Linked DNA regions of Homo sapiens: region 2 is linked to region 1. Evidence: fine-mapped expression QTL. A gene starts in region 1. The other region holds a variant in brackets. All regions are shown on one strand. Distances are between the middles of the regions. Region 1 holds the start of NAT1 (N-acetyltransferase 1). Region 2 has its middle 68 kb from the start of NAT2.

Evidence for each region. PIP is the estimated chance that this variant, and not a neighbour inherited with it, causes the effect.
Region 2: its variant is fine-mapped to the expression of NAT1 in transverse colon (GTEx, PIP 0.96).

What each region holds. Positions count from the first base shown.
Region 1 is chr8:18,208,515-18,211,441 of GRCh38, reverse strand. NAT1 (N-acetyltransferase 1) reads right to left here and starts at 1,333. Exons shown (of 3, transcript NM_000662.8): 1 at 1,262-1,333.
Region 2 is chr8:18,322,214-18,325,140 of GRCh38, reverse strand. No RefSeq gene overlaps it. Among named protein-coding and RNA genes, the nearest start is that of NAT2, 68 kb to the left of the region's middle. The variant T/C (reference allele first, on the strand shown) is at 1,581.

The DNA.
Region 1 (2,927 bases):
TGGTGTCACCTGTTTTGTGTTTCAAGCATTCAAGAGCAAACAGTATGTCTGATTTTTTGTTTGTTTGTTTCTTAATTAGGAAAGAGCAAACAAGTATACCATTGTAGTGGGCCTCATGTCAGGGCATGGGAGCAGCATCCAGGGTAGAAAGCCTGTTGGGCCCTCAGCTCCTGGGGCTGTCTGTCTAGGCCAGTCTCCTCTCTTCTGTGGAATTCTGCAAGTCCATGTTCAGGGGGTGATGCTCTCGGTCTGACGGTGAAGGAGTTAAATTTTTTTGTCATTCATACCTCCTGGAGACCCTCTCCAGTAAGTGTCCTTCGGCCATAATAAAACTTCGTCCCTAGTGTGGTGGCTCACGCCTGTAATCCCAGCACTTTGGGAGGCCGAGGCAGGTGGATCACTTGAGGTCAGGAGTTCGAGATGAGCCTAGCCAAGACGGTGAAACCCCATCGCTACTAAAAATACAAAAATTAACCCCATCTCTACTAAAAATAGAAAAATTAGCCAGGCATGGTGGCGGGTGCCTGTAATCACAGCTACTCAGGAGGCTGAGGCAGGAGAATCACTTGAACTCAGGAGGAGGAGGATGCACTAAGCTGAGATCACGCCACTGCACTCCAGCCTGGGCAATGGGGCAAGGCTCTGCCTCAAAAAAACAAAAACTTCCCTCTGGAATTCCCATAGGCATTGCAAACAACAGAATTCAATCTTCCTGGACATCCAGGATCATTAGGGGCTTTTTATCAGCTAGTGCAAGAGGAGCAGGAATTATTACGAGCTTGCTGCCTGTAGGATTAACTGGGTCCTTTGGGACACACACCACTGGGGACAGAGGAGGGTGAGCGTCACTGTTACAAGTAACCAAGAGGGAAATCCTGTTGAGAAAGTTGCCTTAAACACATTAGTTATCTTTTAATACACGTATGTAATCCTCACAACAAGTCCTTTAAGTAAGCAGTACTCGTAGCTCCATTTTACTGAAAAAGAAACTGAGTTTTAGGGAAACTAAGTGACTAGGCCAAGTTCTCACAGCTATAAAGTGGCTGTGACTGTAAACCCAACAGTTTGAATCAAGGACCTGTAACTGTCACCACTAAGCTGTGGAGTAGTGACAGCATTAGCTTCCAAGTATGTGCCAGCCACACTTTCTGAGCAACCTTATACTTGAAATGTAGACATCGTGTAGAACCTACTCTCCTGTACTCACAGTTGAGATAGGATTAAACCCCAATTTCAAAGCCCCTTACAGAGTTCCACTTACCAGGTTATTTCAGCCGGCAACCAGGAACTAGACTGAATGCAATCCTCCCACATCCAAGGTCTATGAGGAAGTGCTCTCACTTCCAAAGTCTGCAGGGGAAGTGCTCTCATTGGATGTCCAACTGGCCCCGCCCCCAGAGTCACATTAGGGTTACCCCAGGGGCCCCTGGGAAATGTAGTTGCAGGGACTCAGGTTGCTCCTGTGGACCCCTTATTCATATCTTACCATAAAAAAGGGTGGAGAGTTGTATTGTCCGATTATCCCCATGCCACCGGCTGGGAGGACTGTGCTCTTATATTTCACCTGGTTCCTGCTCTCTGGGAGCCTGACACTAGATGTCCCATGTGTGATGTGGAACGTGAGAGCTTGGAACAGGTCCAGGAAAAGCAGAACTGGTAACCTAGAGGAGGCAAAAGAGGAAGATGGAAGGCTTTAATCACACTCCAAGTTTATGGTATACTTTCTTCATCAGTTCCCATTAGACTTCTTTTAAAAATTTTTCTTCCCTTCATCCATCATCCTCATTCCCACTGGCCTCTCTACCTGAAGGCACTGGGCAATGTGTCTGAAAGAGCCCCATGTGTGTGGTATGAGGGTGATATATGTCATATGGCTTTGTTTATGCTGGTGTTTTTTATTTACATTCATGGTATTGATCTACAACTCTTGCTGTTTCTTATGCATTTTTCTCTATACAACATAATTTTTGTTTCTTTATTGACCCAATATACATGTTTACAGGGTACAATGTGGTGTTCTTATACATACATACATTGTGTAATGATCAAATCATGATAATTAGCACATCTATCACTTCAAACATTTATCATTTCTTTGTTTTGAGAACATTCCACCAGTGAGTGTTTCCTTGTGCTGTGCCTTCGGCACCTACTGTTCTAGAACATGCCTCTGGCGTCCTGCCACGTGAACTCGGGACTCTATGCGAAGGCTTTCTCTTGGCATGTCCTCAGGCAGGCTAGATAGACTTGAAAACTATGGGTCTGGGACCACTATTCAGCCCAGGATGTTGGGAGTTGGAGGCCACATATCTTTGTGCTGTACCTGGTCAGGTGGAATTACCCTTAGGCTTGTATAACACTGCCTCCTGGTGTTGTCCAGTGGAATTATGCTCCCTTTGTTCACAGGTAGCTTGCCAATGATGCACCCTTTATTGATTGTCAAACTGCCCTGGTCTCACTGTCCCGCGACAACTCCTGCACTGGTACGTCCTTAAATCATCTTCCAAATAATCTACCTGAATGCAAATCTTTGTTTTAGGGTCTGGCGGAAGGCCACTTTAGTTAGGTGGTTGTGAAGTGGACTGGAACTTGGATTCCTCCTGCTGAGGTAGCAGATTTCCCTCTGACCCGGGGCGGGGGTCTAAATGCTCCCTCTGTGGCCTCCAGCCTAGAATCAAGGGCCTTGGAGGCTCTGCCCAGTGCTGTGTTCCACTGCAGTGGGGTCAGCACTAGCCTCCAATGCAAAATCCCACACTAACATTCCTTTTACTTCCTAAGGAGGTAGACTCTGTCTTCACACTGTGCCGCCTGGGCTCGTGAGGATATTTGTTGAACTTGATGTCCCTGCAGGGGAATGAGTACTGGAAGGTTCTATTTGGCCACCTTGTTCCACCCTCTATTTTATTCTTTTTGATGCTATTATGATG
Region 2 (2,927 bases), 110 kb before region 1:
AGGGACAAACCCCAGCTATTTAGAATGAACAAATGAACAATATTTAATTTCAAAGAGGGAGATTTATAATAGCTTGACATTTTAGCTCTTACTGAGCTTTTCTCCATCTCCCTTGGGAGGAGTCTAGTTGCAGATTAGAGTGACAGCTCTGTGCACTGATCTAAGCTAAGACATTGGTCTTGTATCTCTATTTTCAAAGTGTCTGTATGAGAAACTGTCCAGACAGTAAGGAAACAAGGAAAGAAAAAAGAATGAAATAAAAATGTTCTTTGTAGCACATAGGCAACACAGTATATCTGTATATCACATTGTGCGTACAAAATTTATAGAATTTGTTATGATTACCACAATTAATGCCATAACAACCTGGGATAGATTACAGCATTTGGCAGTGGAAGTCCTCCTGAATCAGGACCCAAAGTATAGTATTTCACAAAGTTTTTTTTTTTTTTTTGAGACGGAGTCTCGCTCTGTTGCCCATGCTGGAGTTCAATGGCAACCTCTGCCTCCTGAGTTCAAGCTATTCTCCTGCCTCAGCCTCCCGAGTAGCTGGGATTACAGGCGCCCAGCACTGCTCCAGGCTAATTTTTGTATTTTTAGTAGAAATGGGGTTTTGTCTTGTTGGCCAGGCGGGTTTCGAACTCCTGACTTCAGGTGATCCACCTGCCTTGGCCTCCCAAAGTGCTGGAATTACAGGCATGAGCCACCGTGCCCAGCCAAATATTTTTTTAAATCACTTTTATTTAGTTTCCATAATAAATAAAAGAAAGCTATAATCAATAATAGGTATATGTAGACATAGAGTGTGGAATAATAGACATTAGAGATTCAGAAGGAGAGACGGAAAGGGGATAAGGAATGAGAAATTACCTAATATATCCAATGTACATTATTCAGATGATGGTAACACTAAAAGCCCAGACTTCAGCACTATGTAGCAATATATCCATATAACGAAACTGCATCTGTACCCCTTAAATTTACACCAATAAAAATAAATCACTTTTTAAATTATTACATACCCATGAAGGGTTCCACGTACTGTAATTTTTCTTCTAATGTGTGGTTGCTTCCAGTTTTCCTAAGATGCGATTATTGTAGTTTCAGTTTTTTAAAGATTTGTCTTCTCAGAACACAGAATGCCTTTGTTAATCCTATTTAGATATCATCATAAAGAACTGTCTAAATTTCTTACTAAACTAGTTGTAAGCTCACTGTTAAAATTATAAAAGTAATATCTTTCTCATTATGGAAAATGTAGAAAAATGTAAGAAGAATATAAAAATTACCTATGATCTCACCATTCAGGACAGACACTGTCAACATTTGATGAATATATATATATATATATATATGAATTATCCTTTTTGTCGATGCCATTACAAAACTGGGATCATATCATATTGTAGTTATTTACTTACTTATAAAGTGATTTTCTTCCAGAAATGTTTTAATTTGGCTTATATAAATACACACAAAATAAAATAAAAAACAAGTGGAAGAGAAAGGAGGATGATAGGAAAAATGAGACTAGGGAAGGTAAGAGAAAGTCAGGTGTCACGTTAGTATACAATGCATAA[T/C]GCACTCCAGTATGTTTGGGAGAAGTGTAGCACACATTCAGCTCTGAGTCTGCTGGCAGCAAATGTTAAAATCCAGGGCATGAATTCCTAGAGTCCATAAAATATATACTGCCATGAAATCGGTGATACATAGCTCTTGCTGACAGTCAGCCTAAGGAACTCTTCTCTCAAATCATAATCAGTAGACAAAGAACAAGATAGTGAACAAGAGCCTCCTTAATGTTTTCCCAGTAATTACAACACTCTCCTTCTTGGGGCTTGGGAGAATATCTTTGCAAAATCCACATCTGATAAGGGGTTAATATTCAAAATACACAAGGAACTTAAACAACTCAATAGAAAGAAAACAACCCAGTTAAAGATGGGCACAGGACCTGAATAAATATTTCTTAAAACATACAAAAGGCCAACAGGTATATGAAAATATGTTCAACATCACTAATCATTAGAGAAATACAATCAAAAACACAATGAGATAGCAAATTGCACCTGTTAGAATGGCTGTTATCAAAAAGACAAAGGAAGCTGAGGCAGGAGGATTGCTTGTGCCCAGGCATTTGAGGCTTCAGTAAGCTATGATCATGCCACTGCACTCCAGCCTGGGCAACAGAGTGACACCATATCAAAAAAAAGAAAAAAAGAAAAAGAAAAAAGAAAAAAACTAGGACAAAAAATAACAAGTATTGGTGAGGATGTGGAGAAAAGGTAACCCTTGCACACTGTTGGTGGGAGTTTAAATTATTATACCCTTCGTGGAAAAAAGCATGAAAGTTCTTCAAAAAAATTAAAACTAGAATTAACATATGATCTAGCGTTCCTACTACTGCATATATATTCAAAGGAAATGAAATCTGTATGTTGAAGATACATTTGCACTGCACTCGTATTTATTGCAGCATTATTCACAATAGCCACGATAAGAAATGACAAGTATCCATTAACAGATGAATGGATAAAGAAAATGTGGTATATATATGCAATGGTACACTATTCTGCAATAAAAAGGAAAGTAATTTTGTGACTTGCAACAACATGGATGAACCTGGAGGACATTATATTATGTGAAATCATCCATATACAGAAAGACAAATACTGCTTCATCTCACTCACTTGTAGAATCTAAAAATTTTGATCTGGTGGAAGTAGGGAGTAGAATGGTGGTTGCCAGAGAATTGGGCAATGGTGGTTGGGAGTTGAGAAGATGCTGGTCAAAGGATCCAAAATTTCATATAGATAGGAGGAATAAATTCAAGAGATCCATTGTACATCTTGGTGACTATAGTTGGTGATATGGTTTGGCTCTGTGTCCCCACCCAAATCTGGTGAAATTGTAATCCCCAGGTGTCA